3 linked regions of the Homo sapiens genome follow. The protein of the gene in region 2 interacts with the protein of the main gene of each other region in a biochemical or structural test. Each region holds a gene or a part of one and is shown on either strand. Other genes may lie near its edges.

Region 1 (3,096 bases), on a different chromosome or scaffold from region 2:
TCTCAGTTTTGTCTGTCCATAAATGGAACCAATACCTGCTTTTTCTCCCTTTCAATGTTGTGAGAATCCACTGGAATGTTTTATGTGGAAATATTTTTGCAAAACATTTAAGATTTTAAATATTTACTATTCAGTATTTAATAAATATTGAAAACATCTTTGCAACAAGTATCCATTTGTACCTACTTGAGGAAACCTACACACCGCTGAGGCAGTGGCAGCTCTGGGAGTGTTCACCAGGGAGAAGCTGCTGAGAGCAGCTGAGCAGGGAGGGCCTCGTGGAGTCTCTGGGGCTTGACTGGGGGTCAGGGGGCTGGCTGTGGACAGGTGGACCGAGAGGCAGAGGGAGCCCTGCCTGGGGGCTCTCCCTCCAGCCCATAGTGTCGGTGGCAGGGTGAGGGTGGCCGACAGCCCTGATGGGACTCCTTTCCATCTGGGAGCATGACTACTTCCAGCCTTGCTGAGTCTGTGTAGGAACTGGCAGAAGCTTCCTCTTGCTTAGAGGATGGAAGAAGATCAGGGTGGGTGTTTTGCGCCCACTGTGTCAGGAGGAGAGAAGTGAGCGGGGGTGTTTCACTACCTTGCCTGGGCTTTAAATGGGGAGGGGCGGGGAGAAGCTGGCAATGGACCCTCACTTGACGGGCCCTTCTGTGAGCTGGGGGCTTTGGCTTTCATGGCATGGTCCCCCGCACTTGGTATAAAGCGCAAGGCTCCTGTGGGTCCTAGGACTCAGTGCTGCTAATCAGATGTTCTTAATTAGAATCTGATTTTGTGTAATTTTCAGTAAGAATTTTAGACATTTCAGTTTATCTTCTAGACTCAGTTTTTCTCTCAGTTAACATTTTAGCTTTGAATCTGCTTTTGTGAGTTTTGTTAGGGGAAGCTTGTTGAACCGTAAGGGCTGTAGTGAGCATACAGCAATGCCTCTTCCATGCGTGCTGAGCTGCAGTGAGGGGACGGACAAGAGCCAAGGTGTGACCAGGTGATGTCGCTAGTGTCAGGGAACACTCATGCCAGTGAGGATCTTCCCACTCTCTGATGAAAACTAACAGGCTCCCCTCTCTCTCGCTGTGCCTGTTGTGACAACCATGACAGCTGGAGATGGAGGACGAGGACACCATCGACGTGTTCCAGCAGCAGACGGGAGGTGTGCCGGAGAGCAGCCTGGCAGGGCACAGTTTCTAGAGGGCCCGTCCCCAGCCCGGGCCGTCCATCCTCGCATTGCTGTTGAATGGTGAGCACGTGACCATGCCGACCACAAAGGTGTCTGCGGAAACTCGAGGACATTCACCACGATGATTTTCCTCTCTTTGATGTACTTCAAGTGCAACTCAAAACTATATCTGCAGGGATGAATCTGTAACTTAAATTGGGCCAATCAGAATTGTTATCTTTGTTCAGGTAAAATGAGTTGCAAGATATTGTGGGTACTTTTGTGTGCTCATTTGTGTTTTCCCCCCCTCCTACAACATTTTTTTAACCCCAAAATTATAGCCTGAATGTTCGCTTTTAGTCTGGCCAGGGATCTGACTCCTGAGTTGGTTGCCTCTCCCCTGCTCACTCCAGTCACATAGAGAATTGGTGTTTCCCGCAGTGGGGATGCAGCTGTTGGACAGGTATTGGGGGCAAGGTTGGTAGGGAGGACAGACTGTCACTTGCTGTTACAGGCACAGGTGATTAAAATGCTAAATATTGCAAATTTAAGCTTTGTCAGTATATGGAAAAGTTGAAGGGAAAATACTGGAATGCTTCTTCAAAGGTTAAAAAATAACCGAGTCTTTTGGTAATTTGACCCCACGTGCTCTCTGGCCCTCAAGCATGTAACCTCGGGGTCTGAGGCCCAGGACCCACCCCCCTGCCACCCCTCCCACCCCACTCCCTGCTCAGTACCTGGCGTTGGTACACAGGCAAGGATTGGCACAACCAAAATTGGCCTTTTTCTCCCTCTTAATATTGAAGAAATTCCCACATTTCTCATTTGGTAATGGTGTTGTGGCCTCAGATTTCTTCTAGTATTTGCTTCTGATGAATGATTATGGTCTATACATAAAAAAGTAAGACTAAGTATTGCTGAATTTGCAGTTATGTTGTCGTGTATAAGAGCTACTTCCAAGTGTGGTTACAAATGAACCCATGGAATGATGACTTCATGTTCTTCTCGTGGGTTTGTGCCGTGCTGCTTTCCAAATAGGTATTGAATTTATGCATTAGTCTGGTGATTTCAGTTCTGTGAAATATTTTGGGATCTATACCAATTAAACATTTTCATAGTTCTGCCTATTGTCCTTCCCTGAGGCTCCATTGCTGCTTGGTGGCCATTCTCTGCCTTTTTACAGTCACCTGAACAATGACCCATCATCTCTTGCTTGCTTGAAATCTTGCTGAAATGTTCTCATTTCCTGTTTGCTGTATGGGCTCGGGTGGGATGTTTGTTGGCTCTGTTGTGTTTATTCACCAATTTGTACATTATTTGTTGTCCTTTACTACTGTAAACAGTAAATATAGTTTGGTATTCTGTCTCTTGGCTTCTACTAAACACTGCATTTGAAGGTTGGGGCATACTGGTACAATTCAGTGTTTGAATTGACCATTCCAGGCAGCCACTGCACTGAGAAACTTTGATTGAAAAGCTAGCCGCTGGAAGGTTAGTATTCGCCTGGCAGCTCATTTCCCCTCCCCTGGCACATCACCAATGCTAGTCCAGCCTTCTTCCTGCTGAGGGATGCATCCTCTCCTCAGAGACCTCCTGGCTGACAGCTGTCTGAGCTGGCATCACTGTGACATGTTACCCTCCCTCTCCTGGGTTTCGTATGTAAAGAAAGGGTGGATTTTAGAGGCAGGTGAGCTTGGGTGTTAGTCTAGGACATCTCTCGTTTTCTGGTGTTTGAATGTAAGTCAGCTTTCCTTCTGCCATGGACAACTTACCTATCTGCTTTGAAACTGAACTGACATTGATTTGGCTTTAAGAATTTCCCAGTGTGCAGTGGTGTAACAAAACCCAGGTTGAAAATGAGCTGTTTTAGCCCATCAGTTGAATGAACCCAAGGTGAAGAAAGATGGGCAGCTGTGGAGATGGAACACGTGATTCACTTGCAC
Region 2 (3,650 bases):
ACACCTGCTAGGAGTTGCCCAGAAACCGGACTGCCACCCTCCAGCCAGTCAGCGTCCTCGCCGGCACCCGCTGCCCTTTCTTCCTGGAGAAGCTTTCGCTGAGTAGCTGCAAATTCATAAATTTCTTCCATTTCTGCTTCATTCACGTTTTCTTGATCTTCTTCGTGGTCCTTGGATTTCAACAAAGTCTCCGCTTCCTCCTCTTCATCTGCCCACATTGACCTCAAGAGTTCCTGGAAATTCTCGGCCCTGCTTTCGCAATTCTCTGCTTCCTTCTCCTCCCATGGTTTGCCCTCTGAGTCAGTGGCAATAGGCACCTGTTCGCACAGGTGAACGAGCTCACTCACGCCAAACCTGCAACACGAAACATCGACAGTCATCGCCCCTCTGCGTGGAGATGGGCTCTGGGTGCCCCGGTGGGGTGGCGGACCAGAGCAGAGTCTTCACCAGGAGGAATGACCATGACCCAGGCCCTGCTTCCCTTTGAAGACGGTGTCCACACTCCTTGCCAGAAACACCCAGGCCACTTAGTTCCAGAAACCGGGGACTGACAACACTTAAAGCAGGGCTTCCTAACTATAGCTGCAGACATAAAGGGGTGTGTCGGACTGAATGTAAGGTAACAGGGATTGGCAGAGCTACAAAACTGGGGAGTCTGTGCTGCCTCAGAGGCTCTTAAGATATGGTGTCAGAGCCAGGCATTGTGGCTCATGCCTGAAATTCCAGCACTTTGGGAAGCCGAGGATCACTCAAGGCCGGGAGTTTGAGATCAGCCTGGACAACATAGAAAGTCTCCATCTCTACAAAAAAATGTAAAAATTAGCCTAGGAGTTCAAGGCTACAGTGAGCTGTGATCATGCCACTGCCATCCAGCCTGGGCAACAGCAAGAGACTCTGTCTCTAAAAGGATAAAAAAGGTCATGCATGGTGGCTCATGCCCATAATCCCAGCACTTTGGGAGGCGGAGGCAGGAGGATTGCTTGAGGTCAGGAGTTCAAGAACAGCCTGGGCAACACAGCGACACTCCGTCTCTCCAAAAAATAAAAAATAAATGAAAAGACATGGCATCAGACACAATCCACAGCACACCAAGTCCTTGAGTCAGCCCAGGCCAACGGGCAAGCCAGCCAGCCACCTGCTTGAAGGCTCTGTGGCCCGTCAGTATATTTCCAACTCCAGAGGCTGAGCTGTTCCTTTCCTAAGAAAGCAGCGGAGGGAGGACGCAGGCTCGGATCAGCGGCCCAGGCCCTGTCCAGAGGCACAACACTTGTCCCTCTGAGCTGCTGCCTCTCTCCTAAGATGCTGGCTGGACAAGCCAGGAGAGCTGTGGCATCTGGGATGCAGCCTAAGCATTCTCTCCATGCCTGTTTTATGGGACTCTGGAAAGGACTGCTGTTGTTCAGGTCTAGTGGTGGAACAATCACTGAGCAGCAGTGTTGGGGGGCGCTGTAGCCAAGGGCCATTCTCTTATCACACCTAGGGGGTTAAAAACCACGGGACTCAATAGAGTCCTCCTGATCCAGTGCTTGGCACCCCTGCAAGGGTCTGTTCTGGCCTGACTTTCACCTAACATGCCCTGTTCCACAGGGTCATCACTGGTCATGGACTTGGGATTAAAAGGTATAAACAGGACTGTTAGTTCTCTTGGCCTCAGCCCCGAGCCCTCTGCAGCACAACCCTCCAGAGCTGTTAACCTGCCAGTCCTCGTCAGTTAATTTCAAAAGCTGGGGAGCAATCCAGACCTGTGGGCCAGGGAGCTCAGCTCAGAGCTAAGGCCAGGAGGAAGGCCAGTGTCCGCAGTGTAGAGATAGTGCAGGAACGTGCGGGCGGCCTCGGTGCTCACGTCACCCAGCAGGACACGCTGGGTCAGAACCCCGTCCTCTACAGCGGAGAAGCCTTCATTGTTCACCTGCAGGTGAAATGCAACACAGAGGGTTTACTGATCAGAGAGTTGTAACTTGGAGCAAAGCAGACGGTCTGGGGTGTCCTGCAAGTCACTAGTCTTTTTATTTTTCTTTTTAGAGACAGTGTCTCCCCTTGTCACCCAGGCTAGAGTACAGTGGTGTGATCATGGCTTACTGCAGCCTTGAACTCCTAGGCTAATTTTAAATTTTAATTAATTTTATTATTTTGAGTTGGAATCTCTCTCTGTTGCCCAGGCTGGAGTGCAGTGGTGAGATCTCGGCTCACTGCAACCTCCACCTCCTCGGTTCCAGCGTATTCTCCTGCCTCAGCCTCCCGAGTAGCTGGGATTGCAGCCGCCCACCACCATGCCCGGCTAATTTTTTATAGTTTCAGTAGAGATAAGGTTTCACTATGTTGGCCAGGCTGGTCTTGGAACTCCTGACCTCAGGTGATCCACCCTCCTCGGCCTCCCAAAGTGCTGGGATTACTGGCGTGAGCCACTGCGCCCAGCCCCTAGGCTAATTTTTAAATTTTTTTGTAGAGATGGGCTCTCACTGTGTTGTTCAGGCTGGTCTTGAACTCCTGGCCTCAAGCGATCCTCCCACCTTAGTCTCCCAAAGTACGGGGATCTCAGGCATGAGCCGCCGTGCCTGGTCCCTAGTCTTAAAAGCAGCTCCATGCCCCAGGAAAAGCATTAGCCACTGTTTATGCAGATTTTTGGCCAATAATTTTACAGGTGAGGCCTAACACTCCTCTTTTGTCAAATCGTATTGGGACTAGATATTCCAGGACCCCGTTAAGAGTCCTCCTGATAGACACATATGGGATCCAGAACTTTGACAAAGACTGAGAATAGCTCCCTGAGTTCCTGCCCACACTCAAGTCAAATGCTTTCAAGTCAGAAGGCAGGTTCATCAGCAACTCATCCCTGAGGAGATCAATTATGAGCCTTTGTAATTATGCAAATAGAGAAAAGAGAAAACAATTCTGGGAAACAATGGATTTTCTTTTTGTTTTGTTTTGTTTTTGAGACAGAGTCTTGCTCTGTCGCCCAGGCTGGAGTGCAGTGGTGCAATCTCAGCTCATTGGAAGCTCCGCCTCCCAGGTTCATGCCATTCTCCTGCCTCAGCCTCCCGAGTAGCTGGGACTACAGGCGCCCGCCACCATGCCCGGCTAATTTTTTTGTATTTTTAGTAGAGACTGGTTTCACTGTGTTAGGATGGTCTTGATCTCCTGACCTTGTGATCTGCCCGCCTCGGCCTCCCAAAGTGCTGGAATTACAGGCGTGAGCCACCGCGCCCGGCCAAACAATGGATTTTCATTCAACAGAACGAAAACACTGATGTTTCCCAGTTGTGAGGCCATCCCCTCACACCCACTCCTAACCTCAAGCGTGGGTCTTTATCTCTTCTCCACGTGTTGCAGAAACGGATGGTTGGGAGGGAGAAGGTGAGAACATGGTGGGGCAGGAAGTGAGGGAGAGTGGGGGGGTGGAAAGGGCACCTGAGACATGGGAAGACCTGGTTGGAGAAAGGCAGGAGGAGAGAGGGAGAGAGAGGAAAGGAGGGCACACGGCAGCCCACGTACTTACATACTGGATGAGGAGCGGGCATCGGGCATAAAGCACGAACTTGTGGGCGTAAAGCACCTCCCCGCTGTCCGTCTGAAACTGGACATCACTCAGGTGTGGGTTATTGACCATGGCGCCAAAGTCAGCAACCAGCAGCCCGAGGGAGAGCTGAAGC
Region 3 (3,650 bases), 2.3 Mb from region 2:
CTGGAGCTCCTGGGCTAGGAGTGCCTGGACCCTCAGTGATTGTTGGCGATGAAGACAGGATTTGGTGCCCACAAGACCCCAGCCCTGGATGGGATGGACGTGCAGAAGCGCCACCACTCCGAGTCTCACTGGAGGGTTTATCTTGCCCCACCTCACTGCTCTTCCTGTGGGCTCTCGCAGTCTCTCCCACCCGGGGCTGCGTCTGCAGCCGGGCAGGCATAGAGCAGGGGAGCAGCAGAGAAGGCGCGAGAAGAAAGGGCTGAGGCCAGGTTCGACTTTGAGCCTACAGCTAAGTTAGTGATCTCAGTCAGTTCAGCAAAACTCAGGAGAGGGAGGAGAGGGCCGCCACGTCCCTGCCGTCCCATAGCTGGAAATCGGCAGGCCCTTTCTGTGGTGAGTTCCACGCATTAACACGTGCCCAGCACCTAGACAGCGCCTGGCCACGGTGAGGCGAGAGTGCTGTGTAAAAGCTTCCACTGCAATTGTCACTCAAGACACACAAGTGTTTTCCACAGTGGCAGTGACCAGAGGAGCTTGAGGACTGCTGACAGCACCAGCTGGTCGAGACTTGCTTCATTTTTGGATTGTCCTTTGCTGTTTGATTTTTTTTTTAAACCATGAGCAGGTATTACTTAAGATGACTTATTTTAATTAAGAAAAATATAAGAATGAGACACAGTAGCTGCTTTCATTGATTCTGTTCAACCGTTGATTGGAATTCCAAGCAAATGCAGCAAGACAAGAAAAAGAAGTCACAACGGAAGAGGTGGGGAGGAAGGCCAGGACAACAGCTCAGTAAAGCTGAGGTGCAAGGCTGGGCACGGTGGCTCACACCTGGAATCCCAGCACTTTTGGAGGCCGAGGTGGGAGGATCACCTGAGGTGAAGACCAGCCTGGACAACATGGTGAAACCCTGTCTCTACTAAAAAAAACAAACAAACAAACAAAAATTAGCGGGTGTGGTGGTGGGTGCCTTTAATCCCAGCTGCTCGGGAGGCTGAGGCAGGAGAAGTGCTTGAATCCAGGAGGCGGGTCCAGTGAGCCGAGATCGCGCCACTACACTCCAGCCTGGGCAGCAGGGCAAGACCCTGTCTCAAAAAAAAAAAAAGAAAAGAAAAGTAGCACAGGACCTGGTAAAGGAAACAAAGCTAAATAATAAATATAAAAATGAAGTCGAGATTGAGGTACACAAATCTGCTTTTATATCATTTCAGCGAGCAAGGTTTTAAAACTGCCATTTATAGTAGCATGAAATACGTTGGAATAAATGCAATAAAAGATTGGTTCAGGACCTCTGTACCGAAAACTGTAGAATATTGCAAGGGAAACCAAGGCCGGCCTGAGCGGTAGCTGAGCTCTGCCGTGTGTGTGGAGGGGAACACACGACATTGTACAGACAGCCCTTCTCTCCAGGCTCGTCTGCAGATTCCATGTGATCCCAGTTGGAGTCAAGCACATCTTGTTGGAAACTGTCCCATGGACCCAGGAAATGCAGAAACGTGGAGGCCTTGGCTTCTTGGTGGGGTGGCGAGACCCAGGCTGAGGCTCCGTGGGTGCAGAGCACACCCACCCACCCCCCACTAGACCTGCCACGGGACACGGTGATGGAGACTGCAGGCTTGCTGAGAAGACAGGCAGGCAGACCCGCGGACAGAACGAGGAGTCCGGAGGCCACGCATGTGGTGGTTTGGGCTGTGACACCTGAGGGATATTCCAGCAGGAGAGACGAGCTCTGCCTCCCACCATAGAGAAACAGCTTCCAGATGGCTTGTGGTGCCCAAGCAGGACAGCGTGGAGAGGAAGACCCGGGATGGTGTCCGTGAGCCCTGGGCAGGCAGGGATCTCTTCACCAGGGATGCAGTGAAGTGCTGGCCGGAGGGAGATTGACGAGTTGACTAAGTTGAAATTAAGAATCTCTCTTTATCATAAAGACTGCAGTTGGCGCCGGGCAGGAGGGCACACTACAGTGTATGTACGTACCTCAGCCCTCACCCTGAATCTACCAAGAGCTCCTGGGAATCAGTAAGAAGGCTGCCATGACGTCCAGCGTGTCCCTCACAGGAAAGGCCTCCACCCAGCCAGCAAATGCGGCAGGGATGCCTGGCTTTGCCAAAGAGTGAAAGCCTCCCCAGTGGGATCTGCCGTAGCGCACAGGGGAGCAGACGGAGCCGCGGCGCAGGGCAGCGGGAGCCTCAGCCACCGCTGGAGAGAGCGGATGTTCTGAACGTTTCCCCTGGACGCTGCCTGCCACACCAGTGGAAGCTGAGCTCATGCTGTAGGACCTGGCTGTTCACTTGAGTCAGTCGAGATTCACAGAAGCACATACATGTGTCCACCAGAGGCACAGATGGGTGCCGGTGTCACCCCCACTTGCCCCAGCCCAGACGTCCTAGGATGACAGGTAGGGAAGAGTGAAGAGGCCACATGATGCCTGGCGGACAGTCCAGACAGGAGGGCACCCCCTTTGTGTTCCTTCTTTGAAGCGCGGGAGCGGCCAAGCCGGAGGCCATGAGGAAGTAGGAGGCAGCCTCTACCTTGGGAGGGACAGGTGGACCTGGCAGTGCTGGCATCCAGCATCTGTGCCTTTCTGCGGGTAAGTTGTGATCGGCAGAAGAAACGAGATTGAGAATCAGATTAAATTGAAATTAGGCAATTTTTGTTTTTGCCAAAAGATTCCCTTAGAAGAGGAAAAGGTCGGGCCGGGCGCGTTGGCTCACACCTGTGATCCCAGCACTTTGGGAGGCCAAGGCAAGTGAATCACTTAAGGTCAGGAGTTTGAGACCAGCCTGACCAACAGTGGAGGAACCCCGGTTCTAATAAAATAGAAAAATTGGCCAAGCTTGATGGCGGGTGCCTGTAACCTCAGCTACTCTGGAGGCCAAGGTGAGGCGGGAGAATCACTTGAGCCCGGGAGGTGAAGGCTGCAGTGAGCCGAGATCCAGCCTGGGCACCACAGTGAAACTCCATCTCAAAAAATTAAAAAAGCAAAAAGTCAAGCCCCAAGCAGAAGAGCCCTGTAAGACGTATCGCTTGAGGAACTTCTGCGAAGCAGTCGCCAGGAAGCAGCCTGGGCCGAAAGGGGCGCTCAGCGGTCACCAGCAGGCGCAGCGTAGCACCACGGAGTGGCTGCCGTGCACCTCACCCGGTGGCTGGAATCCGCCAGCGACGCAGCCTGCGTGAGCAGCCTGGAAGCAGCACGGCTTGAGGGCCAACACCGTCACCCCACATTCCACAGCAGCGCGCTCACGCGTGTTCGCACTCAGGACAGCCACGCAGCTGCTGGTGTCGCCCGTGTGCTCCTGCGGTGTGGGATGGTCGCGGTGTGGGACGGTCTGCGGTGGTGTCTTCGCGTTCCCCAGGGAGTGTGCCCTGTGCATCTCCATGGTACCTGAAGTCCAGGAAGCTGCCTGCGGATGTTGCAGTTGGGATTACGGGGCAGATGCAGTGGTCGGTAGGAGCGAGTGTTCGGGGAAGCTGTAGGTGTTCGTGGCGCGTTGGCTTTCTGGTAATTCCTCCGGCTGCACTAGACATGCCGCACTGTGTGTCCTTCCGTAGCATTGAGAGAGAAGAGGGAGGATGCCCAGGTAAAAGATGGGAAATAGCCTAGAATATCAACTGTGATGGTCCCTGGTGGGGCTAATGGTGGCAAA

What was found.
Region 1: the proteins of SLX4 (region 2) and SUMO3 form a complex in vitro, tested with the Homo sapiens proteins (one study listed by BioGRID).
Region 3: the proteins of SLX4 (region 2) and UBE2I form a complex in vitro, tested with the Homo sapiens proteins (2 studies listed by BioGRID).

The regions. Positions count from the first base shown.
Region 1 is NC_000021.9:44,805,040-44,808,135, reverse strand, and holds the end of SUMO3 (small ubiquitin-related modifier 3 isoform 1 precursor), read left to right. Parts: intron 1-1,095; coding exon 1,096-1,185; 3' UTR 1,186-2,519; downstream 2,520-3,096. UniProt on the Homo sapiens protein: Ubiquitin-like protein which can be covalently attached to target lysines either as a monomer or as a lysine-linked polymer. Does not seem to be involved in protein degradation and may function as an antagonist of ubiquitin in the degradation process.
Region 2 is NC_000016.10:3,590,957-3,594,606, forward strand, and holds part of SLX4 (structure-specific endonuclease subunit SLX4), read right to left. Parts: intron 3,644-3,650; coding exon 3,497-3,643; intron 1,910-3,496; coding exon 1,743-1,909; intron 355-1,742; coding exon 1-354. UniProt on the Homo sapiens protein: Regulatory subunit that interacts with and increases the activity of different structure-specific endonucleases.
Region 3 is NC_000016.10:1,316,031-1,319,680, forward strand, and holds part of UBE2I (SUMO-conjugating enzyme UBC9), read left to right. Parts: intron 1-3,650. UniProt on the Homo sapiens protein: Accepts the ubiquitin-like proteins SUMO1, SUMO2, SUMO3, SUMO4 and SUMO1P1/SUMO5 from the UBLE1A-UBLE1B E1 complex and catalyzes their covalent attachment to other proteins with the help of an E3 ligase such as RANBP2, CBX4 and ZNF451.